7 linked regions of the Homo sapiens genome follow. The protein of the gene in region 5 purifies or fractionates together with the protein of the main gene of each other region. This does not show direct contact. Each region holds a gene or a part of one and is shown on either strand. Other genes may lie near its edges. The genes, in order: CPT1A, CA12, IGDCC4, HACD2, FLVCR1, ENPP1 and IGSF1.

Region 1 (4,313 bases), on a different chromosome or scaffold from region 5:
GCAGTGCCACACGCTGCATATGTGTACAGCACTCAAGTTTTAATACAAGGCTGGGCACGGTGGCTCACGCCTATAATCCCAGCACTTTGGGAGGCCAAGGCGGGTGGATCACCTGAAGCCAGGAGCTCGAGACCAGCCTGCTCAACATGGTGAAACCCCATCTCTACTAAAAATACAAAAAATTAGCTGGGCATGGGGGCGCACACCTGTAATCCCAGCTACTCGGGAGGCTGAGGCAGGAGAACTGCTTGAACCCGGGAGGTGGAGGTTGCAGTGAGCCGAGATCATGCCATTACACTCCAGCCTGGGTAACAAGAGTGAGATTCTGTCTCAAAAAAAAAGTTGGGAATATCTCAAGCCAATGCCACGATGACTTGTGCTGCCCCCAGAAACCAAGGGCCCCCTGTCTGGGATGGAATGCTCCCTCCAATGGACAAGAAGACCCATTTATGTCCCTGCTAGGGGTGCAGGCTGCTCCTCCAACAGGGGTTGCCAGGTGCAAGCCAAAATATGGCCAGTGCTCAGAAAAGGGAGATGGAAATGCCATGTGTATACAGGGGATCCAGCCCATGGCACCTCCAAGTGGCTGGAGTTTCTCCTTTTATGGAAGGAGATGTCAAAGGCCAGAGACGTTAAGTAATTTGCCCAAAGACATCACTTAATAGCTATATAATATTCCACTGTATGAAAATACCAAAATTTAATTTAGTATGGTGAAAGGAAGATTTACTCTGCCAAAAGGAAAGGATTAAGCTGAAAGCTAAGTCATGCAAGAAGCTTTTTATTTTGTTCCCAAGCAGAGAGCGACAGATGAAACGTGGACCATGTTCACCTGACCTGTGTGAAGTGCAGATTTACCGAGCGCCAGACGAATACGTAACTGACTATTCCCCTACCTGCCCACACTATTTCCACTTTAGCAAATGCTAGGATTCGGGGCTTATTATGGGGCTTAACTCTCCCTCTGTAGAGTGATGAGATCTCACTTTGTCCTCATCCCCCAGACTCTCCCTCTCCCGTGTCAGCTGGGAATCTACGCCTGCTGGAGGGGGATTTGCGAACTTTGCCCGCGTGCGTGGTGAAACACCCAACGCCACCCGGCCCCCGGAGACCGGGGTCGGGGGGAGCTGTGCTTCTCCTATGCCGGGTTTCGGGCCTTCCCTCCCCACTGGGTGAACAGTCTTGGGCAGGTGTAGGAACCCCCAAAGTGCTCACGACAAAACCCTAGGCGGTCAGTTCTTACCTTGTAGTGCGCCAGCTGGAGGGCCAGCTGCACAAAGGCGTCTGGGCTCGTGCGACATTTCTTGATGATTCCTTTACCAAAGGCTACGAATGGGAAGGAATGGAAATCCACGTCGTTTGCCAGAAGATTTGCGGTGTTCAGGGAGGTCTCTATAACCTCTTGACACTTGAGAGAAAGAAGAAAAAGGTTTTACGGAACGAGGGGAGAAAAGTACTGACGCACACCCAGAAGGAAATTGGAGGCTGGTTTTTAGTGCAGCTATAAACTCGGTACTGGGAAGTACACAAACGTTTTCCTGACCCAGAAGCCCTAGTAAGTTAGGGGCATGGCTCCCTGACCCCGGAGGAGCAGCTGCAATGTTATAGCAGGTAGCGGGTCTGACATGAGCAGGCCAGGAGAGGGCTTCCTCCGACACACACTGGGAATATCACGCGACCATCAGTGATGGTCAGGTGGTTGTGAACTGTCTCTCTAAAATAATAATAGGTCACAGCCGGTGCCAGGGAAAGGCAGTCTCTCAGTAGATAGAAATGGAGCTGGTGACCAGCAGCTTCCCGATAAGATCTCAAGCGTTGGGCGAGTGGGCTGAAGCATGCGCACTGAGAGGCAAAATGGCGGCGTCTAACTGGACTATGAGCTTCCTCCAGCAGTGCTAGACAGGCAAGGGCAGAACACCTCAAGTGAGCATGCGCACAACTCCAGTAAACATACTGCGCATGCTCCCTTCCCAAGCGCTGGAGCCACTGTGCATGCGGACAGCCCACAACAAGGGAGGAATTGGGAGAAGTAACACAAGACCCTGGACGCATGCCAATGTATAAAACCTCAAGTCAAGAGGTCAAACCTCGCACTTAATCTCCCAAGTTGGCCGCTTGGCCCTCTTCCAAATGTACTTTCCTTCCTTTCGTTCCTAAAGTTTTTAAAATAAACTTTCCCGCTTTTAAACTTGGTCTCTCCTGCCTTCTGCCCCACAGTCAAATTCGTTCTGAGAAGGCAAGAATTGAGGTTGCTGCAGACCCGTACAGATATGTTCTGACGCTAACAGGAACATGGGTAGGGGACGGGGGCACCCTGGCTTCCAGTGAGACCCCAAAGGGTGTTTCAAATAGTCACACGTCATCTTATGATGACGTCATCACACAGTGGCAATCAAGAAACACATTTTTTTACTTTTTATTATTAATTTTTATTTATTTGAGATAGGGTGTCCCTCTGTTGCCCAGGCTGGAGTGCAGTGGCACCATCGCTGCTCACTGCACCTTCTGCCTCCCTGGTTCAAGCCATTCTCCTGCCTCAGCCTCCGGAGTAGCTGGGACTACAGGCACTTACCACTATGCCCGGCTAATTTTTGTATTTTTAGTAGAGACGGGGTTTCACCATGGTGGCAGGCACCTGTAATCCTAGCTACTTGGGAGGCTGAAGCAGGAGAATCGTTTGAACCTGGGAGGCAGAGGTTGCAGTGAGCTGAGATCGCGCCATTGCACTCCAGCCTGGGTGACAGTGCGAGACTACATCTCAAAAAAAAAAAAAAAAAAGAAAAAGAAAATGGTATCTTGGACTCCAGGGAATTTCTCCTTGGATTAAGTGAACTAGGATTTGGTATTTGCAACCCTAAAATTCCTTCCCAAAAGGGCTCCTGTGAATGGGCTGCCTCTGAGCATGTTTAAGAGGTGCCAAAATGAATTAAACTTTGAGAAGTATAAATGAGCAATTTAGAGGCTTTCAGCTCTAACCTATGTGATTTTGGCTTTTAGTTTTTGATTATGAGCATTCTGTAGATGTCTAGTTAAGTTTAAGCTGGAAATAGCGCTGACAGTCTTAGCCAGGAGCTTCAAACAGAAGAAGAAATATTTACCGAGGCTTCCGAGGCAACAGGAGCTGTGACAGCCCCGCAGACCCACGGAACTCCCTGAGCAAACAACTTTCAGCCTCAGTGGTCTTCAACTGAGCTCATGATAGGGCAGGAACTACGGTTGGAAAATTCATCTGTAAGACTTCAAATGTGTTTCCCATCCCAGGTAAGTAACAATGGTTGGATAATCCGGACTTACTTCCCCCGGGATGTCCCACTGCAGCCTGGTGGGGTACGGAATGTTCGGATTGATGTCGCCTTTGCAGTGCCCATCCTCCGCATAGCCCAGCTGGAGGCTGTCAATGGACATGACGTACTGTCAAAAATAGAACAAAATTATTAAAACTAACAGTGGTACATAAAACACATTAACCTCCAACATGAAGAGAGGGTTGTTCTTTGCAGAGATGTTACAAAGTTTGAATCACAGCTGTTAAGGCTTCCAGTATGCTCAGCACCTAATGAGGTGGATCTGATCTCCATGTCAGATGTGACAGAGAGAGGACAGACGAGGGCTAAGGGCTTGCTCAAGTTTGTGACGCTCTCCTTTCACTGGCAAGTAAACCTAAGCCAATTTATTCAACGGTGTTTATTGGGCACCTACTATGGGTTGGAACCACTGTAGCATCAGCGGCATCCAAGCCCTGGTGACAGCGCAGACAAGAACTGTGTTTTGTGAACAAAACAGACAAGAATTCTTGCCCTTCCTTAAAAAGTGAAATATACCTGTATGACCCAGCAGTTCCACTCCTAGGTACATACTCACTGAAATGAAATGAATAGATGCTCACACAAAAACTTGTACAGAATGTTCAGAGCAGCATTATTCATAATAGCCAAAGAGTGGAAACAACACAAATGCCCATCAACTGATGAAGAGATAAACAAAGTGTGGTCAATCCATACAATGAGATATTATCCAGCCCTAGAAAGGAATGAATTCCAGGTATGTGTTACAACGTACTGAACCTTGAAAACATTATGCTGAGTGAAAAGAAGCAGGCAGGCGCGGTGCCTCACTTCAGTAATCCCAGCACTTTGGGAGGCCAAGGTGGGAGGATTGCTGGAGGCCAGGAGTTCCAAACCAGCTGGGCAACATAGTGAGATCTTATCTCTACAAGAAATTTTAAAAATTAGCCAGGTGTGGTGGCACATGGCTGTAGTCCCAGTTACTGAGGAGGCTGAGGTGGGAAGATCACCTGAGCCCAGGAGGTCATG
Region 2 (4,313 bases), on a different chromosome or scaffold from region 5:
GAAGGACTAGGGCTGCACAGGCCAGAGCCAGAAGGCCACCGAACTCTGCTTTATTTTGTACATTGTTCCTGTTTGACACACACGTCAAGACCTGTTGACTTTCAGCAATTCAGCATCTGCTTAGCCAGTACCTATTATGAGCCAGGAATTACTCTGGGTCTTGGGGCTGCCAGGTTGAATACAATAGAGCCCCTGCTCATCCAAGCTGGCATTCTAGCGGGGAAGAATTTAGCAAATCTGCGGGGCCACCCCAGGTGGGAAAAATTAGTGTCTTACTGACCACAGTGCCAAGTATTATCTTGGTGCAAAAATAATTGCGGTTTTTGCCATTCCTTTCAGGCAAAAACCACAACTGCTTTTGCACCAACCTAAATAGGTCTTTGTGGCTGCTGGCTTTGCAAGTATGACCTTCCTGAAGAGAAACCCCTGAGGACATTGACTCTTGATACCCACATTTAGAGTAACTATAGAACCCAATCTGATAGGGATGATTGACAAATGTTAAATAATTATAGGCCTGGAATCACAGAGTGAAGTGCAGAGTTTAAGCTGGAAAAAAATATGACCACACTATAAACTAATTATTACAATATAATTGACACACTATCAGTGAAGAGGAACAGACTTTAAAAAAAGAAATTCCTCCAGGGCTCAAGCTTCTTGCTAACTACCAGATAGCAGTTCCTCCCCTGGAAATGAAAATAAACATGCTATGTGCAGATGAACTTTCCTACTCCCACAGGGAAAAAGTCTTTAAAGAATGTAAATCTATGTTTAAAAGATTATCTCCACGGTAATTAAACAGACTTTCAGGCCAAGGTTTCTCCAGAAAAGCAAAGAATTGGCATGTCATGGCTCGTTAGGGTAGACCCAGGGTGTCCTGTGGGCTCTATCAGAGCTGGGGATCAAGCTTTGCCATCTGGGGGTCCGTTCATCAGTATTTCAACACAAGGAAGGTGGGTAAATAGAGAAAAGGGGAAAGGAACACCACCTCTTCTGGGAATTCTTCTGTAGACCCCTGCACTGTTTCACAAGGGTGTAAATGTTATATTGGCCCCACAGAATCCCAACCCCCTACATCGTGCTCTCTAACTAGGGGACCGTATCTGAGAGTGGGAAGAATCCGAAGTGATACTTGGTACCCAGGTTCATTTCAAATGCTATGAGGCGTTGGTCCCAGGCTTAGTTAGTTCTTACTTCTAGGTCCGGACACACACATCGGAACCCTACTGATTTTTCAGGCTGTCAACCTTAGGCTATGCATTTTCAGAAATGTTACAGCATGACGGAATTGCAGAATCTCCAGTCCAACCTTTCACTGGACACCAGTCTTCTCACTTGGGCATGGCAGAGTCTCCGCTGAGCTCTACTATTCTTATTTTCAAGGCCTCAAAATAACTCAACTACACCAAGATGGTGACTAGGGAAGAGGGAGGCTGGAGGATATCAAAGCAGGCACTCCAGGGCCAAACTGGAGTAAGACAATTATTCAGCTGGGGGCCAAACCGAATGCTTTAGGGGCAGCGGGGAGCAGAATGAAGCAACCGTGAGGCCTCATGTAGAACCCCAGGGTCAGGAAGAGACACAGCACAGGGTAAGACTCCCTAAGTGAGGCTGCCAGCCTTTTCTGTGCTCACAATACTGCCTGGGCCCACAGCCAGCAGGGCGGAAGCTGCCAGCCAGGCATGAATGCAAAAAACTCAGGAAGTAAAGAGATGCATCATTGAGAAGCTTTCTCTTTGCACACATGACTAAAGGGAACTGGATTAGAAGGGTTTTCTTTTCCCACAGTGGAGGTTCAAAAAGGTTTCATCAAGAGGGCATTTTACTGATAGCTAAACGAGAGCCTCGTGAAGATAGGGACCCCTCATCTTCGTCTCTGTGAACCCATATTATAAGTAGGGTCACGTGCCCCCATGGGCATTTAGGAAACATTTTCCCAAAGAGTGAAAAAGAACAGAGGGCTTGGGAAAATGTGACTTGGGGAATGTTTCCTTTTTCTCTTGCTCTAAATACGCTTTATTGGAAGTTAGGACCAAATAAGGTATTTGGGGGGCAGGAAAGACTAAGGATATTAAAGGCAGTAGAGTTGGTGTTGGCAAAACCTGTCTTGGAAAGAGAAGCAGCTATGTTGGACCAGGGGAGTCCAGAGAATGAGATTCCAGCATCAGCTGTCCCAACACTTCAGTGGGTTATGTTCCCTGCTGGAGCCTCCATTGCCCTTCGTGCAAATGGTGGGGGTGGTGGGCGTAGTGGTGGGGATGGGATGTGTGTGGAAGCTATGTTCTGGAAGGTTCCTTCTGGCTCTTAAGCTCTGATATTTATTAAGAATACTAGGACTAAGCACCTTCTCCATCTGTCAGGCAAATTTGAATGAGTCAGAAAGGTTGCTCATGTCAAGGCAGCTACTGGGCATGTGACAAGGTGCCCAGGGGAACCAGCTTCGGGAATGAGGGCACAGGGCACCGGTGCTCCAGGACTGGCTGGGATCAGACAGCCATCTGCATCAGGAACCTGCCCTGGTCCTGGCTGCCATCCACAGCGGAGTTCGTCCTTGGGCACCAGTCACAGGTCTGTAGGTCAGCAAGGTCAAGAAAGCCTTGTCTTCGCCTCCTCCTCCTCCTCCTCATTGTTATTATATTGTAGTAGCTTTGATCCTTATAACTCTATAACCTTACGGGGTAAGCAAGGCAGAATTGCACCATTTTATGGGTGAAAAATAGAGATTTAAGAGATTTGCCGGAAGTTTGACTTTGGCTAAGTAACAGTTACTTTGCTTGGGTCACAGGACTTATGTGTCCTTCAGTATTTATCCAGGAGATTTTGTGCACCTGGAATTTCCTGGCTTCCCCACGCTGTCCTTGAAGACAAGGACCACGGCTCATCCATCGCTGCACTTCCCACAGTGCCTGGCACAGAGTGGGCCCTCACATGTTTACTAAGCTGAACTCTCAACACCTGTTTCATGCTTGTTCCTTTCCCAGGGAACGTGCACCCACCTTAATTCCCTCATGTATTTCTTCTCCTCAAAAAAGAGGAGGAAAAATGAGATCACTTGCTCAGGTTCAAAATGTACCCTCCTAGCTTTCTAGCTTACCTGTGTGCAAATGGTTTCTGTTTGGGGGCACTAATTGAAAAAGAAATCTGATTTCTGCCCTGTAGCCTGGGAGACGGCCTGCCAAGGAAGTTCATAGGGCCCTCCCCCAGCATGTAATGGCTAGTGGGTGTCCCCGCCTTGCATAGCTGGGGACACTGTCAGAGCAGCCTCCTGTCTTTGTGGCATGTGAGAGATAGAGGTGCCATGAGGGTGGGCACCGGGACAACCAATATCAGAGGTGACAACAGCAGGCCTTTCTGTTCCCTGAGCTGTGACATGTGACTGCACAGTGCTGGCCTTATGCTGGCCGCTACACCCTGGGCTACCATTTTCCAACTCAGTGTCAGCTTTCACACTCATGCCAAGTGCTCCACTGCCAGAAATCCTCCACTGGGAGTGACTCTCCTAAAAGAAGCATTTATTTCCAGCTAAAACTTTGCCTTTGCTCTTCTGAGTTTTGACTTCGCCTCTCCAGTTGGTTGGACTCCTCCCATGATCGTGATACAGGAGGATCACGTGTCTTTCACAGTTTGTTTTTCTAAATAAAGCCAAGGCATTATTTCTTTCCTGTCTATGTGTTTTTCCTGCTCTAGGCAAAACAGAAGTGGTCAGAATTCCTGTTTCGAAAGGTAACAAGAGATTAACATGGCACAGCTCAAAATGCCTCTCGTGATTTCTGATTGGGAATTTTGAGGCCCAGGGTGTAGGACCTGCATTATCCAAGGACCAGAATGTTTTTACAGAAAATTTCAAATGTATACAATGTAGAGAGAGGAGTGGAATGAACCCCATGTCACCCAGCTTGGACAGTTTACAATTCAGAAACAGTCCTGCCTCATCTATGCTAAGCCCATTCTCCCCTTATCTACCTGGATAACTGGAAACAAATCCAGATATATTTCATCTGTATATATTTCATATGTTTCTCTAAAACATAAGGGCTCTTAAAACCACAGTACCATGACCACACCTAGAGAGTTAAGAATTAATACCTTAAGATTACCGAATCCAATTAGAATTCAAATTTTTCCAAATAGGTCATAAATTTTTAACAGTTTGTAAATTTCAGGGTTCACATACAGTCCATATATTTTTTGCAATATTGCAATTAGAGGATGTGTTATGGCCTAGATTACAGCTTGATGGTGGAATGCCTCATCAGAGAACACCTGGGCCCCGCTCCTCCAAGGCTCAACATCTCAGAGCCAGCTTGGTC
Region 3 (4,313 bases), on a different chromosome or scaffold from region 5:
CCAACATGGTGAAACCCCATCTCTACTAAAAATACAAAAGTTGGCCAGGTGTGGTGGTGCATGCCTGTAATCCCAGCTACTCGGGAGTCTGAGACTCGAGAATCGTTTGAACCTGGGAGGTGAAGGTTGCAGTGAGCTGAGATCACGCCACTGCACTCCAGCCTGGGCGACAAAGTGAGACTCTGTCTCAAAAAAACAAACACAACAACAACAAAAAAACATGAGGCAGAATGAAGGGCTGGTATTGGGGTTAGGATAATGCCTGTGCCTGCCCATCTCCTCCCAACACTGTTCTTGAGTCAGGGACTGGGACCCCTTTGTGAACAGGTGGCGAGAAGCCGAGCTCTGTTCTTATCACACGCACAAAGGTGGGGCTCTCGGCTCTCCCTTCTTCCCAAGTCAGAATTTGGAGGGTAGGGAACCTAGAGGTCAGTAATGGGAGGCCTCTAAGAACTTGAGAGCTTTCTCCTCACCTGGGAACTCCTCACCTCCCCCATCCCTTTCTCAGCCCAGAGGCTCAGAGGCCAATCTCAGTCATTTGGGGTGGGCCTCTTTCCCCATCTTGGAAGTTAGGAATCAGGTCAAACAGTTGGAGTTTCTTTTAATAATGAATCTTATCCAGAAGATACCTAAACCTTCATTGATCCTCTATGTGCTTTCATGACTCAATTAAACACACATTTACATGTTAATTAGCATTTCTTTTCTCCTAAACATATCTCTTTCAAGTGAAGCAATTTCACAATTAGCGCATCATTGAATGTCAGCACTGAGAGGAACTTAGAAATAATTTCAGGCCAGGCTCATACCTGTAATCCCAGCACTTTGTGTGGCTGAGGCAGGAGGATCGCTTGAGCTGAGTTTGAGACCAGACTGGGCAACATATTGAGACCTCATTTCTACGAAAAATTAAAAAAAAAAAAAAAAAAAGCATGGCGGTCATGGTGGTGTTCCCTGTTGTCCTTGCTGCTCAGGAGGCCGAAGTGGGAGGATTGCTTGAGCCCAGGAGTTCAAGACTGTGGTAAGCTATGATGGCTCGCACCACTGTTCTCCACCCTGGGCAACAGAGTGAGACTCTGTCTCAAAAGAAGAAAGAGAAAGAAAAGAAGAAACAATTTTAGCATGAACCTGTTTTTACAGATGAGAAAACTGAGTGACTTCCCAAAGTTACATGATTAGGGACTGAAATGGGGCCACCCTTTCTAGGGATACCCAAGTTCACTCTCTTTGCACTCCTCTATACCTTCTGAGACGTTATCAGCTTCATGCTCTCCCTCTCAAGTGGGTCTATCTGGGCTCTGGAATCCACCCTCCTCCACTTAACCCCCCCCACCTCTTTCTATTCTCTCCCATGGTACAGCAACCAGACTTGATACGGAATTCCAGATGCAGAGCAGATGTCATTACCAGGCAGGCTTGGGGGCAGGGGGAGGAGTAAGCATGGCTCTGAGGGAGAGGACCCCAGCCTGGTCAGAGGTGGGTGACAGGAGCTAGGGGGCCAGGGAAGGAAAACCAGAGAGTATGTTTTGGAGCCTGACATGCAGAGAAATCAAACCCTGTTACCTGTGCCAACTGGGCTGCCAGCTACTACTGCCTCACTGCTGAGGCTGAGTGAGGTATCCTTTGGATTTGGGGGCCCATGGGGTCCTTGGGATCAGGGAAGCAAGGACCAATAAGCTGTCCTTCAGGTGCAGACCCAAGACTCCTGGATGGTTCTATAAGGGACTTATGACCTTGTTAGATAGTTTGCAGGACAAAGCTCTGGCCAGTGAGCAGAAAGTACTGGGAGAGACAGGTGGGCACAAGAGAAATAAATTTTTTAACCATATGAGCCATACAGCAAGAGAACAGGCAAGGTAGTGATCTCCCCAGCCTGGTCATGTTTAAGTACAGGGTTTCTTTCAGTGTGGACTTCAGCTGTTCTATCTCTGCTTTTCAAGCATGTCATGTCTACTGGGTGCCACGCAGTGTGCTAGGCAGTTTCCACATGTCTTCCTGACATCCTTTCTTGCCCTGAAGGGAGTTACTGTTGTTTTTACAGATAAGGAAACTGATGCTTGGAAAAGCATAGGGGGCTCTATGCCTTATCTTTTTGAGGATGTCTTCATGGGTTCACTCATCCATTCAAGAAATGTTTATTGAGCACCTACTGTGTGTTAGGCACTGTTCCAGGTACCGAGGATTTAGAAAGCTAAGACATAACCCCAAGACTTTGGTGCCTAGTTGAGGAGAAAGGCAAGTCAAAAACCTAGAGTGAAGGCTGGGCATGGTGGCTCACTCCTGTAATCCCAGCACTTTGGGAGGCCAAGGTGGGCGGATCACTTGAGGTCAGGAGTTCGAGACCACCCTGACCAACATGGTGAAATCCCGTCCTACCAAAAAATACAAAAACTAGCCAGGCATGGTGGCGCACACCTGTAGTCCCAGCTACTTAAGAGGCTGAAGCAGGAGAATCACTTGAACCTGGGTGGCAGAGGTTGCAGTGAGCCGAGATCATGCCACTGCACTCCAACCTGGGTGACAGAGTGAGACTCCGTCTCCCCCCGCAAAAAAAATCTGGAGTGATAACTGCGATGATGGGGGTGCCAGCGTTCTACGGGGCAGAAAAAGGAGAGGTGTCTAAATCAACCAGGGACATCACAGCTGTTCTAGGGAGTGAGAGCAGCACCAGCAATGCGTGGAACAAGATGTGTTTTCAGAGAATTGGCCATGGTTTGCTGTGTGTGGAGGGGTAGAGGGTCTCAGGGGAGCGGGAGATAGGCAGGTCAAGCTGAGCCTGGCTTTGCTGTTGGATAGGCTGAGGCTGAGACTCTCCCCTCAGGATTGCAGATGAAGGGAGAGCTGAGGCCTTCCTTGTGTCCCAGGCAACTGTCCCAACTCTCCTTCCAGCTGTTGGGGGGAGGGGCTCAGCATGTGGTAAGGGAGGTGGCCAAGGTTGGGGGCAGGAAGGAAGGTTTCTGGAAGGAACCGACTTGTGTTCTCTGGGAAAGGAGAATGGTGATGGTGTCGTGGAGAATTTCTCCTGGGCTGCAAACAAGTAGTAAATCTGTTGGGCCCTGAAATTCAGAAGTGAGGAGGCACTGATGTGATGTTTGTGGCAAGTTCCTGGCTTAATAAAGGAGCCATCTTGGCCTCGTTGTTCCCCTCCCCCAGCTACACGCCCCTTCCCTAAGAATTCACTGAAAAATGGAACTCACGCCAGGCCTCCACTAATCCCACGAAACAGCATTGAGCTGGCCCTGGAGCTCAGCAGCGAATCTCCTTTCTGTCTGGGTTCTAATTGGCCTCATAAAATCCAGTTTATCCTGTAAGTGGGTAAAATAATCTGTCAGAAAAAGGAGATTGAGAGGTGGCCCTAGGGTTCCCAAATGCAGCAGCTCTGTGTCTCTGACAGGGTCTCACTGAGGAGATTGAGGAGAAGGGATTATGGGAGGGGTGGCCCCCTCAAGACAGAAAGCCAGCGGGCAGCAAGTGTCCACTGGGCACCTGCAATGTGTCCACCCCGGCACTGAGAGGGAGGGCTAAAAATGTTGGGGGTCAGCCATGACAGTGGGCTGGGGGTGGCAAGTAAGCGCTGGCCATGAAGCTCCTGGACAAATAAGGTCCCCTCCCCAGAGCATCGCTTTTATGAAAAGATTTGGTGGTATGGGAGCCACACTTATATTAAAACAAATATTGCTGTGTTATGGAGCAGAATGCAAAATGTGCTAGAGGTTTGGCCGGGCGCGGTGGCTCATGCCTGTAATCCCAGCACTTTGGAAGGCCGAGGCGGGCGGATCACGAAGTCAGGAGATTGAGACCATCCTGGCTAACACGGTGAAACCCCGTCTCTACTAAAAATACAAAAAATTAGCTGGGTATGGTGGCGGGCGCCTGCAGTCCCAGCTACTCGGGAGGCTGAGGCAGGAGAATGTCTCGAACCCGGGAGGCGGAGCTTGCAGTGAGCCGAGATTGCGCCACTACACTCCAGCCTGGGTGACAGAGCGAGTCTCAAAAAAAAAAAAAAAAAAAAAAAAAGTCAAAACATTTTAGGCAGTCAGCGAGCCTCGTAAATATGTGTTCCTCTGCTGTTGAGAGAATTTGGGTGAAAACGTTTGAGAAGTTTGGAGACTTCTCATTTTAAAATTGGGGAAACTGAGGCTGAAAGGACAAAAGTAGCTCACACAAGGTCATGCAATGAATGACTGGACTTAGAACCCAGGACTCTGAGGCCAGGCTTGTCCCACCACACCCCCTTGTCTGTCTAGGCAAGAGTAAGGGACCTGCAAGTGGTTTTCAGTGTGAGACTTAGGAAAAACTTTACCTGGGGAAGG
Region 4 (4,313 bases), on a different chromosome or scaffold from region 5:
TTGAGGTCACCTTTAGCAATATCTTTTATTGCCACAGCTGTGTGTTAACCTAAATGCTACTTTTTTTATTTTTATTTTTTCCTGATTGCTGTTTTCTCTTTTACTAGGTGGCTGGTTATAGCGGTTGGTCTGGTCCGAGCATACCTGGCTAAGGGTAGCTACCATAGCCTTTATTATTCAATTGAAAAGCCTTTGAAATTCTTTCAAACTGGAGCCTTATTGGAGGTAGGTCCTGAGATTTATTGTTGTTATTGATTTCCATTGGTATGAAGAAAAACATGCAACTAAATTATATTGAAGTAGCATACCCCCTTTGGATTCATGTTAAATTTTGAAATTTTGCCTCCTCACATACTAAAGTGTTGATACCTAGGCTTTTTGATGTTCTAGATTGGGTAGAATCTCATTTAACTTAGGTTACCTTGAATGTATTTTATATTCGACTTTTTTGGGAAATCAACTGAAGCAAGCTTATATTAGGATTTTTAAAAATTCTAGGGACATCCTGGGGAAGCACTGGCAAAATCAGATGCTTTCAGGGTTTATGTAATAGAAATAGTGAAGTTGGTGGGTGTAGGATATTGGAAGTGATAGATAGAAGACATAATAGAGAGCCTGTCTAGAGGCGTCCAAATTTTAAAAATTTAACAAAAATGTATTGATTTCCCTGCATTAAGGGCAATGTATATCCAGCCCTCTCTCTTGGGGTAAGTATAGATTAGGATTTTGGAATTGCAAGGGACAAAAACCCAATTCAAACTATTTTAAGCAAAAAAGGAATTTTCTGGCCTCTGTAGTTGATACAGATACAGGATTAATTTACAAAGAAACTAGCTCAGGAATGAGAACCAAGGAGCTGACACTGCCAGATTCTCTTGCTTTCTCTCATTTCTGCTTGTCTGTTTCTCTTTGAATGTTGGTCTTGGGCTCTCCACATGGTGGGAAACAGGGAGGGTGTTTATTTTTCGCAGCATCTGTGTCACACAGTTCCCAGAGAGGATTCTGGTTGGCCCTACTTAGACTATGCCAGTGATGTGAGGTGCTTGATTAGCCAATCTTAGGACACATGCCCATTCTTCTGTCCAAGGGACTATAGACTTTGCTTATGGAAAAGAGGGATGGGGATAGCTTTGGGCACACAAAATCAATAGCCGCCATAGTTCGTATATTTCATTATGGTGAAAAACCTTCAGATTGCAGGGAAGATCTGGTTCATTTTGCTTAGCCTCCAGGCAAGACCATCATAACATTTATACTTTACTGGCAACTTTTAAAACCTGAACTATGGAATGATACTTAAGAAAAAATCATTTATCTCGCTGGGCACGGTGGCTCACGCCTGTAATCCCAGCACTCTGGGAGGCCGAGGCGGGTGGATCACGAGGTCAGGAGATTGAGACCGTCCTGGCTAACACAGTGAAACCCCGTCTCTACTAAAAATACAAAAATTAGCCGGGTGTGGTGGCACGGGCGTGTGGTCCCAGCTACTGGGAGGCAAGGTTGCAGTGAGCTGAGATCACGCCACTGTACTCCAGCCTGGGCAACAGAACGAGACTCTGTCTCAAAAAAAAAAAAAAAAAAAATTCTTTATCTCATGAAATGAAGTGTGATACCTCTACCTTTCATTCTCAATTTTTTTTTTTTTCTTGAGACAGGGTCTTGTTCTGTCGCCCAGGCTGGAGTGCAGTGGTGCCATCATGGCCGTGGCTCACTGCAGCCTTGAACTCCTGGGACCAAGCAGTCCTCCCACCTCAGCTTGCAGAGTAGCTGGGCCCACAGGCTTGCACCACCATACATGGATAATTTTTAAAACTTCATAGAGACAGGGTCTCCCTGTGTTGCCCAGGCTGGTCTCAAACTCCTTGGCTCAAGCAATCTTCCCATCTCAGCCTCCCAAAGCACTGAGATTACAGGCGTGAACCACTGCACCCAGCCCACTCTCACTTTATTTATTTATTTTTTTGAGAGAGGGTCACTCTGTCACCCAGGCTGAAGTGCAGTGGTGTGATCACTGCTCACTGCAGCCTTGACTTCCCAGGCCCCAGCCATCCTCCCACCTCATCCTCCCAAGTAGCTGGGACCACAGGCGTGCACTACCGTGCCTGGCTCATTTTTATATTTTTGGTAGAGGTGAGGTTTGGCTGTGTTTCCCAGGCTGGATTCACTCTCACGTTCTAGATCAGAAAGTTATCCATTTTGCTTTTGTTTTTTTCTCTTAGAAGGCAGAGGAATTTCTTTTTTTCTTTCTTTCTTTTTTCTTTTTTTTTTTTGACACAGGGCCTTACTCTGTTGCCCAGGCAGGAGTGCAGTGGTGGGATCTCGGCTCACTGCAACACAGAGGAATTTCAATAGTGTCCAAACTTAGGCATTTTAAGTAGGTGGTATGATGAAATGAGCTTCCAGCTGGAAGCCTGAGTACCTTTTTATTTTAAGTATAATAGTTTTCCCAACTGACTCTATAGATTTGGGCAAGTCTTTTCTCTCGTATCCACCTCCTTTTCATTTGTAAATAATTAGGTTAAAGTAGATTTCTAAAGTCCCTTACTACCCTAAATTTGAGTGTGAGGAAATTTTAACAAATCCTAATGTGAACCATTTTTTAAACTTAGAGGCTTGAACTTTTTTTGGAAGCGGACACTAGTAAATAAGTAGTACTTTCTCTTTCAGAACCTTGGCCAGTACAGTTCCCACAAGCTACAGAGAAGCAAATTTGGAGTCAAGACCATCAGACTTCCAGTACTTGATATAGTAGGGGGTTGTCCCCATTTGGAATACTTCAATAATTTAAAGGGGTTTCTATCTCTTTAAGACATCATAATATTAGAGCTGAGCACAGTGGCTCATGCTTATAGTCCCAGCAATCCCAGAGCTTTGGGAGGCCAAGGCAGGAGGATCACTTGAGGGCAAGAGTTCGAGACCAGCTTGAGCAACATAGCAAGACCTCATCTCTACAAAAAAAAAATTTTTTTTTTTTTAGCTGGGCTGGGTGGTGGGTACCTGTAGTCCCAGCTACTTGGGAGGCTGAAATGGGAGGCTTGAGCTTGAACCCAGGAGTTTGAGGCTGCAGCGAACTATGATTGCATCACTGCAATCCAGCCTGGATGACAGAGTGAGACCTTGTCTCAAAAAAAAAAAAACTTGGTAATGTTAGAAGTATAATTTTTAAAATTTAAGTATATCTTATGGAAGGTAGGGACATTAAACAGTGTCATACTTTAAAATCCACTCAGGAACCAAGTCTTAGACTTTGAAGGATTAGCCTGTTTATCCTTATAGAATTTTTAATAGGGATTTAGGAAAATATCTTGGATTTTTGGTTTTATCTCTGTTATCCCCACTAAGAACCAATTAAGTGACAAATCCTGGATTTGATTTTGGGAAAATGTCTGTGCATAAGGAAGTGAAGACTCCCAGGAACATGCAGGCAATTAACGTTGCAAAGGTCAGTGATGGAAGTAATCCCTTGGACTGGGCGATAGAGCAGGCTTGCTAAAACCACAATTTCTGTGGTTGAGGAGTTTTTCATTGCCTACCCCATCTACACTGTGTAATAATTAGATGTGTGTGGTATTGTTTAATTACACATAAGTTATCCTGATGGGAATTATTAGTGTTGACATATATCCTGTTTACAGGAGGAGAAAATGAATCCAGGGAAGGCAGCTACTCATTTATATCTCTTTATGCTAAATGTTATTCTTTATTAGGTTCTGTGGGAGTTTACTTAAAAAGGAAATCGAAATTACTTGTTCTCCAATTTCACATCTTCTTAAGAAAATAATAACACTTTGCTTTTTAAAAGACATAAAAACATTTACCAAGCAAGTACAAAGGAGCATGTAGTAGCAAGGTACAAAAGGAAGCCTGGCTGAGTACCATGGCTCACACCTGTAATCCCAGCACTTTAGGAGGCTGACATGGGGGGATTGCTTGAGGCCAGAAATTCAAGACCATCCTGGGAAACATAGCGAGACCCCATCTCTACAAAAAATTAAAAAATTGGCCAGGCATGGTAGCACATGCCTGTAGTCCCAGCTAATCAGGAGACTGAGGTGGGAGGATCACTTGTGCCCAGGAGTTCAAGGCTACAGTGAGCCATGATCGTGCCACTGCACTCCAGCCTGGGTGACAGAGCAAGACCCCATTTCCAAAAAAAAAAGTATCTATAAATAAAATGCTACTCATGGATAAAATGTGGTCTATGGATATAAACATTCATAAAATTAATAAAGGCAAATGAATTACTGATATATGCCTGGATAAATCTTGAAAAAATGCATGTGAAAGGAGGCAGATACAAAAAGTCACAAATA
Region 5 (4,313 bases):
AACTATAATATTGCCCTTTAGGCACTCATCTGAAATTGATTTGAAGAGGAAAAGAACTAATAAAGTTGAAATGCCATCTTTTAATCATTCAAATTTATAATTTCATTATAGCTGGAGTTTTAAATTTATATACTAGTTTTTACAATGGCTATAATAGTAATGGAAAATTCATATTTTGTGATCTCCAGATATAAAATTCTTAGTTTTCAAAGAAATGTATGCTGAAGATTCTAGAGTGTTTGGGTAGAGACTGCCTTGGTAGATGAACTGCAGGATCCAGGTACAGGAAGCTCAGCCCACATACTTAATTTCCCTTAATATAATGAGCAGAATGTTCTCTTGGTAACATATGAAGTATTCAAACATGTGTAATCCACTTGTTGGTTTTGGTTTTCAGTTAGTTATGGAGTGGCATATTTGTGATGTGCAGACTACTAAGAAGGACACATTATTCCTATCCTATTTTAGCAGTTTAGCAAAGTTTTAAAAGAAATTTGTATTCTTAAAAAAAAAACACCAAAATTCTTTTTTTTTTTATTATAAGTTTTAGGGTACATGTGCACAACGTGCAGGTTTGTTACATATGTATACATGTGCCATGTTGGTGTGCTGCACCCATTAACTCGTCATTTACATTAGGTATATCTCCTAATGCTATCCCTCCCCCCACCCCCCATCCCACAATAGGTCCCGGTGTGTGATGTTCCCCTTCCAGTGTCCATGTGTTCTCATTGTTCAGTTCCCACCTATGAGTGAGAGCATGCGGTAAAAACACCACAATTCTTAAGTCTGCTTTTCTGGTAGCCATGTTTGATTTGCTAGATGAAATAGGAAATACATTTTGCATAAATGGACCTTCCATTTGCAATAGGGATTTTTTTTTTTTTTTGAGACAGAGTCTCGCTCTGTCACCCAGGCTGGAGTGCAGTGGCATGATCTCAGCTCACTGAAACCTCTACCTCCCAAGTTCAAGTGATTCTCCTGCCTCAGCCTCCCGAGCAGCTGGGCTTACAGGCATGCACCACCATGCCAGCTAATTTTTGTATTTTCAGTAGAGACAGGGTTTCACCATGTTGGTCAGGTTGGTCTCAAACTCCTGACCTCAAATGATCCACCTGCCTCAACCTCCCAAAGTGCTGGGATTATAGGCATGAGCCACCAGGCCCGGCCAGCAATAGGGATTTTTAAAGTATAGAATTCTCTCTCTTTTTTTTTTTTTATCAAGACGGAGTCTCGCTCTGTCACCCAGGCTGGAGGGCAGTGGCGCTATCTGGACTCACTGCAATCTCTGCCTCCTGGGTTCAAGCAGTTCTCGTGCCTCAGCCTCCCTCCCTGGGATTACAGGCATTTGGCTAATTTTTGGGGTTTGGTTTTTTTTTTTTTTTTTTTTTGAGACAGAGTCTTGCTCTGTCAGCCAGGCTGGAGTGCAGTGGCGCAATTTCGACTCACTGCAACCTCTGCCTCCCACATTCAAGGGATTCTTGTGCCTCAGCCTCCCAAGTAGCTGAGATTACAGGCGCGTGCCACCATGCCTGGCTAATTTTTGTATTTTTAGTAGAGACGGGGTTTCACCATGTTGGCCAGGCTGGTCTCGAACTTCTGACCTCAGGTGATCTGCCCGCCTTGGCCTCCCAAAGTGCTGGAATTACAGGCATGAGCCACCGAGCCCGGCCTTTTTTGTGTGTTTTTAGTAGAGATGGGGTTTCACCATGTTGGCCAGTCTGGTCTCGAACTCCTGACCTCAAATGATCTGCCTGCCTCGGCCTCCCAAAGGGCTGGGATTACTGGTGTGAGCCACTGCACCCGGCCAAAATTCTCTTTCTTTTGATTACTTTTGTGTCTTCACATAAATTCTGATTTTCCTTTTTTTTTTTTTTTAAATCCTCTTCAATTGCTTGTCTCAGAAAGAAGTGAGAAAGTAAGAGATTGCATGTAAGATATCACGAAATCATACATGTGATGTGTGTATGTTTAAACTGCTACAAATAAAAGATCTTTACTTGTTGAAGGAGGGAGACCAAGAATGATAATAATAGGTATGACTATTGGCATATTACCCTTTGTTATTTGAGAAATTAAAAGAGATCTGATTATGTACTTAACTAATTATGTACTCATGGCCTACAGGTAGAGAGTGGAAATAGAAATGAGGGGAAAATAATGGGAAATATGGCATTAAACAAAGGCTCTTTGTCAACTTTTGCTTGGAGGACTCTAATTTTAATTTTATGATCCCAAGCATATTATAAAAGCAAGATAGTATACAGCTGTGATATGAAAGTCTTAAGTTGAAAATTGTGACATTTAAATAGAACACATACTTGTTTTCCTCATTCCCAAATATTTGCTATTGAGCAAACTTTGGATTACTTAAAAAAATCCATACCAAATAAAGTTCCTTAATTACTAAAAGGTGATTTTACTTCTCTCTGAATTCTATCCATACTTACTTTGGAAGTCCCACCACGTCCTCATAAAATAATTTAATTTTGTTGAGATTTTTCCGCAACGTGACATGTACTAAATTGATACTCAGCAGTCTGCTTAAAATATTTTCTCAAAGGTTCATGCCATGTAACTGTTCCTCTCCCTCATGGAGCTTATATTGAGTATAATCCATCTAGTGTTTCCAGGAATTAACCCAAGCATTCCACTGAATTTCACACTAATACCCTATTCCTATTAGGAGAACTCTATTATAGCCTCAAACATTTGGTTTGTTGGTATGTGCCAAACATGTTTGGAGGCTTACTACATGCTGTATCTCATTTAATCCTCATGACTCTGTGAGGAGGGTACCAATATTCCCATTTTATAGACAAGGAAACTGAGGCACAGAATTTAGTTAAATCTAATTTGTCCAAGGTTATAGTAAACACTGAAGGTCAGATTTAAGCCTAGACAATTTAACTCCCTATATAAAAGTTACAGATAAAAAATAACATTTTAATTTTTACTGAGCCTTATTTTTTGTTCGAATTCAGATTCTTGCATAAGTGGTAATGCTGTTGTATTTAAAAGCTGTTCTTGTGCAGCAGAGCAGTAAACTATGTCATTTAACTCATGTGTCAATTAAAATACTTTCCTGATTCACTAAAATGAGTGGATGACAGAAGCCAAAAGTAATCACAATAAAAATATTTAATATTAATATGCTTAAACACATAAGCATATAATGTGTGCATAATTTTACTTTTTTTTTTTTTTTTTGAGATGGAGTCTCGCTCTTTCACCCAGGCAGGAGTACAGTGGCGCGATCTTGGCTCACTGCAAGCTCTGCCTCCCGGGTTCACACCATTCTCCTGCCTCAGCCTCCTGAGTAGCTGGGACTACAGGCACCCACCACCGCGCCCGGCTAATTTTTTGTATTTTTAGTAGAGATGGGGTTTCACCGTGTTAGCCAGGATGGTCTCGATCTCCTGACCTCATGATTCGCCCACCTCAGCCTCTCAAAGTGCTGGGATTACAGGTGTGATAATTTTACTTTTAATTCTTTTTTAAGAGATGGGGTCTCGCCCTGTCACCCAGGCTGGAGTGCAGTGGCACAATCTCAGCTCACTGCACCCTTGATCTCCTGGCCAGCCTTAAGCAATCTTCCTACCTCAGCCCTCTGAGTAGCTGGGACTACAGGTGTGTGCTATCATGCCTGGCTATTTTTTATATTTTTTGTAGACAGGGTTTCACCATGTTGCCCAGGCTGTTCCCAGCTTGCCTTGGGCTCCCAAAGTGCTGGGATTACAGGCATGAGCCACCATGCCCAGCTGCTTTTGATTCTTAATTCAAGATATCTATAAACTTTATTTTATTTTATTTTATTTTGAGACAGAGTTTAGCTCTTGTTGCCCAGGCTGGAGTGCAGTGACGCGATCTCCGCTCACCGCAACCTCTGCCTCCCGGATTCAAGCCATTCTGCTCAGCCTCCCGAGTAGCTGGAATTACAGGCGTGCACCACCACACCCGGCTAATTTTGTATTTTTAGTAGAGGCAGGGTTTCTCCATGTTGGTCAGGCTGGATTCAAACTCCTGACCTCAGGTGATCCGCTTGTCTCGGCCTCCCAAAGTGCTGGGATTATAGGCGTGAACCACCATGCCTGGCCCGGCTGCATACTCTTAACAGAAATACATTTAACTTAGTCTGTAAGAATTTCAAACTCCTGAGGCAGTCTCTGATTTTTTTAAATAAATATTCCTCAAAAAAAGACAATATTTTTGTGTTGCACTTGATAATTACAGAATTATTTTACATATATTGTATCATGTAATCTTCATAACAGCTTGCTATTGTTATTTACATTTTATCGATGAGAAAGCTG
Region 6 (4,313 bases), on a different chromosome or scaffold from region 5:
TTTTAATTCTAGGGGGCGCATGTAGATCTTTTGTGATATATCTTTTCTCTTTCTAGTTTTTGCATTTTCCACTCTATTTTTAATTCCTTGGAGCTGTGACTTGACTTGGGTGCAGGTGTGGTGAAGTCTAGTTAGTTGACTTGGGTACGGGTGTGGAGAAGTCTAGTTCAGTTCTTGAGCATCCTGAATTAGGGAATCTGTGCTGTTAACTCTAGCAGTGAGGTGATGAGCACATAGTAAACCAATCACAATGTACCTTTTTAAAAATACAATTCAGATTGTTTAAATGTAGGGAGAAAAAAGATTTCTTGGTATGAAATGAATATATTACACTGTCCTTTTTTACTTCCATGTTAATATGTCATTATTATAAAAAGATAAAAATACTAGACAAGTTATGAACAAAATTGATAACATCCATGAGGGCACCTGTAATCCCAGCTACTTGGGAGGCTGAGGCAGGAGAATTGTTTGAACCTGGGAGGCGGAGGTTGCAGTGAGCCAAGATCACACCATCGCATTCCAGCCTGGGCAACAGGGCAAGACCCTTTCTCAAAAAAAAAAAAAAAAAAAAAAAAAAAAATATATATATATATATATATATATATATATATAGCAATTTGGAGAGTAGTTTATTTCATGCTTTACATTTTGTTTTAGACTTGAGTTAGAATAGAAGAAAGACTGTTGGGGTATATAGATGAGAATTATAAAGCAGCAATCATATTCTTATTTTTTAATTACTGGTGTGATGCTTATACTAACAATTTTGTCTTTTGCAACTGTCATTCCTCTCCTTCTGTCCTTTTCATCAAAAATGTAACTTCTGTCCAGGCATGGTGTACCACACCTGTAATCCCAGTACTTTGGGAGGCCGAGGTGAGAGGATTGCTTGAGACCAGGAGTTCAAGACCAGACTGGGCAACATAGTGAGACCCTGTCTGTACAAAAAACTAAAAAAATTAGCTGGGCATGGTGACATATGCCTGGAGTCCCATTTACTTGGGAGCCTGAGGTGGGAGGATTGCTTGAGCCCAGTAGGCCAAGGCTGCACTGAGTCATGATTGCACCACTGCACACCAGCCTGGGTGAAAGAGCAACACTCTTGCCTTGAAAGAGAAAAAAAAATCCACTAATACAAGACTATCATAAATGATCTTTGTTCTATGTTGGAATAATCAATCTATAGCGGTTCTATGTTACAAAATTTAAAACATGTCTCTCAGTCCTTAAAAATAGTTTTATAACCTTTTTTAGATTTTGCCGATTGAGGATTTTCAAACACAGTTCAATCTGACTGTGGCAGAAGGTAAGGCATGCTACACACTCAAGCTCGGAATGTGAAGCAGGCATTTTCTCATCAGTGTGAAATGCAGAGAACTGGCTTGGGGGTATTATTTGAGAATAACCAATAAAATAAAGGGAGTTCTGGAGGACCACCTGATGAAACATAGAGGTTTCTTTGCTTGACAGTTTAGACTATTAGGCATAAGGAAAGGAGATATTTTGCAGTGGATATTGTATGTAATGTATTTAGTGGAAGCTGAATCACACCTTGTGAACATGATGGAGGTGTTCAAAAATTTTTGATGATTTCTGTAAGTTGATAATAGAGACTGAGATTCCCATTTGAAATACCTAAGTTTCTATCTCACCTGGTTCTTAATCATACAAGGTTATATATTGATTTATTGATCTAAAGTTATTTCTGCATCACTTTTGACCAAAAATCAAGGATACACAGACAACTGATGAAATTTTTCACTTATGACTTGAATGTTTGGAGTCACTATAATACACTCTCTCAGCCTTAAGTTACTTGGCACACATTTTTTTTCTACTAGAATAAAGAGGTAAATTCTGCATTAGTTCTGATGTAAGTTTGTCTCTATAAAATCCCTAGGTAAATGCTGGAGTTAGGAAAATCTTTGATATCTCCAAGGTGGCAAAGTATTGTGGTGAATGATGGCACTTTCAGAATTGAGTAGATCCAAGTTTGAATATGAGCTTAGGTACTATATGTTCATGGAAATAGTATTCCCTGTCAGCTGCTGTTTCCTTATCTGTAAAATGGGCATATAACCTTAATTCATAGGGAAATGTAAAAATTAGTTATATGATGTGTACCAAGCCCTTGACATTTGGAAAAAGGGCAATAAATAATATCTATATTGTTATTGTTTTATTTAGTTTAGTCTCATAATTTCAATTCTGAACTTCTGCTTTCCAAGTACACATATCATTAAAAAAATTTGCTTTCTGGAGTGTGTCCTAAAGAATAAGTAATTAAAATAGTGCTTAAGAATTTTTGGTAATATAACTTTGAATTAACTGGAATATTTAGCAATTTCATATAGTGTCCTCATGGTATCTTGATATTACATTGATTTCAGAATCTTTATAGGCAAAAATAACAGTGAACCTCACTTGTCTTCTTAATTGTTTATGCTTCTACCCTTTGTAATCAGTTTTTTTAATAGTTAAAAGTAAATCTTCAATATAATTAAGTAGAGGAAAGGATTAGATGAGTGTATCACACTATATATTATCATATAATGCACACTAACTACATTTATTTTCATCCTGTGACCCAAGAGAAGATTATTAAGCATGAAACTTTACCCTATGGAAGACCTAGAGTTCTCCAGAAGGAAAACACCATCTGTCTTCTTTCCCAGCACCAGTTTATGAGTGGATACAGCCAAGACATCTTAATGCCCCTTTGGACATCCTATACCGTGGACAGAAATGCAAGTATTTGTCACCTCTTTATGTGTGGCCATTTCAAATTAATGATTAAGCAGAACATTAAATGCATAGTTTCTCACTGTTCACCTTGGCTTTATACTCAGTTCCCGCATTAGAGGAACACTGAAGAGGGAGTCAGAAAAATTCAGTTCCAGTTCAAGCTCTGCCACTGAGCAGCTGCATGACTTTGAGAACTCAGACCAAATTTCTTCTGTGAAATGAGGGTCGTGCAGTAAAGATTCTCTTTTGGGCTGTGCGCAGTGGCTCATGCCTGTAATCTCAGCACTTTGGGAGGCCGAGGCGGGCAGATCACGAGGTCAGGAGATCGAGACCATCCTGGCTAACACGGTGAAACTCCATCTCTACTAAAAATATAAAAAAATTAGCCGGGCGTGGTGGCGGGCGCCTGTAGTCCCAGCTACTCAGGAGGCTGAGGCAGGAGAATGGTGTGAACCCGGGAGGTGGTGGAGCTTGCAGTGAGCCAAGATGGCGCCACTGTACTCTAGCCTGGGTGACAGAGTGAGACTCCATCTCAAAAAAAAAAAAGAAAGAAAGAAAGAAAAGAATTCTCTTTTCCTCCCCGACCCCAGTTTTAATATTTTATGATTCCAATTTATAATTGCATGAAATCAGCCTTAGGATCAGTCACAGTTACCCATTTCTAAATACATGGCTGTGTGAGGACAAGTATTTCCCTCAGCTGTCCAAATCTAAGGGGGCCCTCACTGTTTGGCAAAGCCATTAAAGCTCAGTAACATCATTGCACGTACCATCTATAGGAAGACACGAGCCCAAACCAGGGAGAGGCCAGAATCCTGCCCACCACCAACACCAGAGGAGTTAGGCCTTGAAAGGAGTGAGGGCAAATATCCCAGAATAAGAGCAGCCTTCCCCCTCACCCATGGCCCCCTGGGTGCTCTGGTAGAAGGAGGAATGGTGAAGGAGATGGTGCTGGAAAGAGAGAAGGGGGAAGATGAGATTTTGATCTTACGTGGAATTGAAATTTTAAACTGGGCTGAAACTGAAAGTGACTGGCAAGGTACAGGATGCCCTAAGGGAACGACAAAGGGATTTGAGAGAGCATAGTGGAGGGCAGCAGTTTGATTTAAAAAATAAAATGATTTTTACTAATCAGTGAGACAACCAAATAAAAAGATAGGGATATGTCTGTTTATATATAATTTCTATGTTACAAATATATAATACACACATATATTTATATAAAATTTCTTGAACTTTGATTTTTAAAATTTTTCAATACTGTCTTCAAACACCAAACACTTAAAAAAATTTTTGACTTTGTAATTGATCAGTCTACACCATTTTTCATAGGCACCCCATCCTATTTATTAATATTTATACCTTAATTATGGGTTCCTTGATTCCATTTTCAGTTTTCTTATGTAATTAAAATGCATAACTTTACAGTCATTGCGATGCTTGAGGTTTTTACATTGCTGTTCGGTGACTGTCCTCCTTTGCTCCAGCAACTTTTGGCAGTGTAGTTGACTATGGAAGATAGACTCAGATCTCTAAAAATCAACATTTTACTATATAAAAGCTTA
Region 7 (3,964 bases), on a different chromosome or scaffold from region 5:
GCTTAGAATTAAACACTGCTGGGAGGCAAGTTTAACTTCTTTAGGGTCAGATTTGAAGGGGTCATGACCCCCTCTCAGACCTGTAGGTCACTTTTTCTGAGGTCTTTAACAAGCTTTGAGGAACTAGGTAAGCCACCCACCCCATTCCAAACGGCCTAATGGCCTAATGTGTACTGAATTCCCACTCATGGGGCAAGTGGCCTTCTAATCCAGGGGGAAAGATCAGTGGCTGAGAATGGGAGCTAGCCCCCCGCCCCACCATTTCCCCATTTGGAATCCTGGGAGGCGACACTGGCAGGTCCCCTGTTCCAAACCATCCACCTCATCTGCTTACTGGCTTCTTGAGATCCCACCATTACACGCACATTCCTTTGGGAAAATGGAACTCTCTTTAGAGAGGGACAAAGTATCAGATTTGATTAATTGTTCTTACTTAAGAGTGAATTCATTTACACCCTGTGATTGCTAGGTAAGGGTCACAAAGCGCGCTTTTCCAGTTTCAAAGTGCTGCTGAGGGCCAATCCCACTGTTTGAAAGTGGATGTACTATGGACCCAAACGTAACACAATGAAATGCATGTAATGTCTGTGTTTTCCCTCCTCAGGCTCAACTTGGAGAGAGTGTTGCCATTCATTCATTCATCTATCCCATGGAAGGGCAAAAGAATACTCTGGTCAGTGACTATGTGTCAAACCAAATTGGGAAGTAGCTATTTTGGAGCCCCCTCCCCACGCCCATCCTTGAACAACTTTCTCTTTTCTCGTACCCCTGCACTCTCTTATTCTGCCATCGAGATCAGCTCCAATACATCATTTCTAAATTGTTAGTGGAAAACAGACCAATAGAAGACCACAGCCATAGTTTTTGAAGTTAAATAGTGAATACTCTTTTTATTCAGAAGAATGCATTTTTAATAGAATTTCATGCGCCAGTAAATCAGTACAGTGAGGAGTTACAGGGGTGGGGAACCTCTCTTCAGGAAACATCTCACCCTGGCAGAGCTCTCAACTCCCAGAATCCCCTTTACCCAGCTCAGGTGATTAGAGACCAAGGAACAGCAGATGGGGCTGACTTGCAGGGTAACTGGTTGGATTTATAGGTCTCTGAGAGCAAGAGAGAGGAGAGGAAAGCTCTTGTAAAGGAGGAGATTATTATATTGGAACGGGCAGTTCCACAGAGATTCTCTGAGAGGTTGATGAAGGAGAATTGGCAGGGGTGCCTGGTTCTCCTTCTTGGTTACACTCTTCAAGGGCAATGGTCTGGTCTCTTCCGTCTGTCTCTGAGCCTCTATGTAAAGAAAAAGACATGAGTAAGGGAGGACCCAGAAACTGAAAACAGATTGCACGGTGGGGCTCAGATACTAGGGGAGCATTTGTATGATTGTTTTTCTAGCACCACCTGGTTCACAGAAGGGGGCCATAATGAGGCATTTATTTACCTGGTTCGCAGTCGAGGCCACTTCTTCCACTCTATGGCTAGCACTACCCCCAAGGCTACAACAACCACCACGATTAGGCTACTTCGGACAATGTTCCCTACAGTGCACTCCTGAGCAACAGGCCCTGTGGTGATGAAAGAGGAGAAACCGAGGCCATGGAGATTAGCGTGTGTATGTTCCCCTTGATCTGGTATTGCCCCACACTCTGGCCTTCTTTAGGGTTCACGTGGGAGCCATCTGTTCAGACTACAGAGGGGGTGGGCAGTGGCAGAGTTTATGCTGAAGCAGAAGCAGCCCTCCTTTCCTTGGGGAAAAGAGGCCTGAAAAGAAACCCACTCACTATCTTCAAATATATTTAAGGTCCCACCTCCTCATCATCCTTAGGAGAAAGATGACACACTTCAGGTCCCTGGCTCCAAAGCTCCTCCATTCTCCTGATTTGGGATGTCTCCATGGGGACTGTCCCTGGGATCCCAGGTGTGTCACACCAGGACCATGGAGAGATTATTCTCTTACCTGCTGCCCCCACCAGCTCCAGGGGATCACTAGGCTCTGACCAGATATCAGGGTAGGCCTGGAGGCGGTAGCTGCAGCTGTAGTTTCCAATGCCTTTTCCTTCTACGTTGTTGATGACAAAGTCTCCATCCTCTGAAAACTGCTGAGGTGCTTCTTCTCCATCATGTTCTAGGACAAATTCAACACCTGGCAGGGGTCCTCGGCACTGAAGGGTGATGTCCTTCCCTAACTTGAACATGGTGCTGGGCCAGGCTGACAGAGAGGGTTTAGGGGGCTTATCTGCAACCAACAAGGACACAGAGTTAAAAGAAATGATCCTGAACTTAGCCTTTTACCCCCTTATTGCTTACTGCTAAAAACTACAAAATCGTGACTTGTACTGAAGTCTCCAGGACCTTACCAGTCACCCAGATCTCCAGGGAGTCACTGTGATTTGAAGCTGCAAAGGGAGTAGAGTCCAAATAATAAACACAGCTATAGATCCCAGAGTCTTCACCTCTCACTGCTGGCATCCAGAAGTCAGCCCTGTACCCACTTGGCCTCTGTTGCTCTAAAGGCTCCTGAGCCCCCTCCTTCAACAGGACAAATGTTGAGTCTGGCAGTTCCCCTTGACACTGAAGAGTCATATTTTCGCCAGGGGCCACCATGGGACCAGGCTGGGCTAATAGGCTGGGTTTGGGGAGTAAGCCTGGAAGAAATGAACTCCTGGTCAAAGAGAAGAGGTCACTTTCCAGTGCATCACCCCTGGGGTCTCTGCTCAATAAAGAGGAAAGGCAATTGGTTGCCTCTCCTCGAGCTCTCTGAAAACTATCTCCCATGAACTAGTCTATTCCCTCCTTTCTACACTTCCATGCCCACTCGACAGCCTCTTCCCCTTACCTGTGACTAGGAGTTCCAGGGTGTTGCTAGGTTGTATCTTGATAGAACTGGTCCAGTCAGGGTGGTAGCAGCAGCTGTAACGCCCCATGCTAGTACCAGATATATTGGTGATGGGGAATGCCCCGTCATTACTGGTGGATCCCCAGAGCTGCATTGAAGTGGCTTCTCCTTCTTTGTGCAGAATGTATCCTACTCCATGGACCGGCCCTCGGCACCAGAGAGTAACATTCTGCCCCATGGGAACCACAGAACTGGGCTCAGCAAACAACCATGGCTTAGGGAATGTGTCTAGAAAGAGACCAAGGTTGTAAAGTGGTGACTATAGAAACTTATGAGTTCCTGCTTAAATTAACACTCTATCTTTCTCCTCTTGGGCACGGTAGTTCCCCTCCGTGGCCTAGCCTAGCCTTCCAGGAGGAATTACTCTCCCTAACCCCTTCTCCAATGATCTCCATCCCAGTCCCATGTCCGGTCGGTCCTTACCAGTCACCCAGATCATAAGGGGCATACTGAGATATGACCCCCTGTTTGACATGGTTGTCTCATAGTAGATACAGCTATAGTTCCCAGAGTCCTCTGCTCCAACAGTGTGGAGAAGGAAGTCAGCTGAGTTCCCTGAGACACTCCGAAACTGTAAGGGAACATGGGCTCCCTCCTGCAAGAGGGCGAACCTCATGCCCTGGAAAGTCCCTTGGCAGCGCAGGATCACACTCTTCCCAGGAAACACCACAGGACCTGGCTGTGCCAGGAGAGTGGGTTTGGGGTAGAATTCTGAAATTAAAGAGACCACAGCATGAGATAAACCCAGCCCTCACATCCTGCAAATAGCCTTTTAAAGTGTTATTGTAAGACACAATATATGTTTGTTGTTAAAAATTAGAAAATATAGAAAAAAAAACTAATGAAGGAAACACAATTCTACCACTCAAAGATAAATATTTTTAATATTTAATTGCCATTTATTCTTTCCATATATTCCCATGTCCATGTAGCTATAACTGTTTACATAATTGGGACTCCACTTATGCACAGTTGTGTAGTTGTGTAGTATGCAGCTGACATTTCAAGGTCTTCTCCCTTTCTCTGAGAGCCATCCAGCCCACCGGTCTCTGACAGCCCAGCTAGAGAAAA

Evidence for each region.
Region 1: the proteins of FLVCR1 (region 5) and CPT1A purify together in Homo sapiens (affinity purification with mass spectrometry; one large-scale study listed by BioGRID and IntAct). This does not show direct contact.
Region 2: the proteins of FLVCR1 (region 5) and CA12 purify together in Homo sapiens (affinity purification with mass spectrometry; one large-scale study listed by BioGRID and IntAct). This does not show direct contact.
Region 3: the proteins of FLVCR1 (region 5) and IGDCC4 purify together in Homo sapiens (affinity purification with mass spectrometry; one large-scale study listed by BioGRID and IntAct). This does not show direct contact.
Region 4: the proteins of FLVCR1 (region 5) and HACD2 purify together in Homo sapiens (affinity purification with mass spectrometry; one large-scale study listed by BioGRID and IntAct). This does not show direct contact.
Region 6: the proteins of FLVCR1 (region 5) and ENPP1 purify together in Homo sapiens (affinity purification with mass spectrometry; one large-scale study listed by BioGRID and IntAct). This does not show direct contact.
Region 7: the proteins of FLVCR1 (region 5) and IGSF1 purify together in Homo sapiens (affinity purification with mass spectrometry; one large-scale study listed by BioGRID and IntAct). This does not show direct contact.

What each region holds. Positions count from the first base shown.
Region 1 is NC_000011.10:68,772,022-68,776,334, forward strand, and holds part of CPT1A (carnitine O-palmitoyltransferase 1, liver isoform), read right to left. Parts: intron 3,412-4,313; coding exon 3,295-3,411; intron 1,409-3,294; coding exon 1,244-1,408; intron 1-1,243. UniProt on the Homo sapiens protein: Catalyzes the transfer of the acyl group of long-chain fatty acid-CoA conjugates onto carnitine, an essential step for the mitochondrial uptake of long-chain fatty acids and their subsequent beta-oxidation in the mitochondrion.
Region 2 is NC_000015.10:63,346,914-63,351,226, forward strand, and holds part of CA12 (carbonic anhydrase 12 isoform 1 precursor), read right to left. Parts: intron 1-4,313. UniProt on the Homo sapiens protein: Reversible hydration of carbon dioxide.
Region 3 is NC_000015.10:65,415,841-65,420,153, reverse strand, and holds part of IGDCC4 (immunoglobulin superfamily DCC subclass member 4 precursor), read left to right. Parts: intron 1-584; exon of another isoform or gene 585-3,305; intron 3,306-4,303; exon of another isoform or gene 4,304-4,313.
Region 4 is NC_000003.12:123,578,124-123,582,436, reverse strand, and holds part of HACD2 (very-long-chain (3R)-3-hydroxyacyl-CoA dehydratase 2), read left to right. Parts: intron 1-107; coding exon 108-225; intron 226-2,667; coding exon of another isoform or gene 2,668-2,736; intron 2,737-4,313. UniProt on the Homo sapiens protein: Catalyzes the third of the very long-chain fatty acids (VLCFA) elongation four-step cycle (condensation, reduction, dehydration, and reduction).
Region 5 is NC_000001.11:212,864,612-212,868,924, forward strand, and holds part of FLVCR1 (choline/ethanolamine transporter FLVCR1), read left to right. Parts: intron 1-4,313.
Region 6 is NC_000006.12:131,877,285-131,881,597, forward strand, and holds part of ENPP1 (ectonucleotide pyrophosphatase/phosphodiesterase family member 1), read left to right. Parts: intron 1-1,257; coding exon 1,258-1,309; intron 1,310-2,595; coding exon 2,596-2,750; intron 2,751-4,313. UniProt on the Homo sapiens protein: Nucleotide pyrophosphatase that generates diphosphate (PPi) and functions in bone mineralization and soft tissue calcification by regulating pyrophosphate levels.
Region 7 is NC_000023.11:131,272,645-131,276,608, forward strand, and holds the end of IGSF1 (immunoglobulin superfamily member 1 isoform 1 precursor), read right to left. Parts: intron 3,605-3,964; coding exon 3,317-3,604; intron 3,122-3,316; coding exon 2,834-3,121; intron 2,643-2,833; coding exon 2,355-2,642; intron 2,234-2,354; coding exon 1,955-2,233; intron 1,563-1,954; coding exon 1,439-1,562; intron 1,288-1,438; coding exon 1,152-1,287; 3' UTR 862-1,151; downstream 1-861. UniProt on the Homo sapiens protein: Seems to be a coreceptor in inhibin signaling, but seems not to be a high-affinity inhibin receptor. Antagonizes activin A signaling in the presence or absence of inhibin B.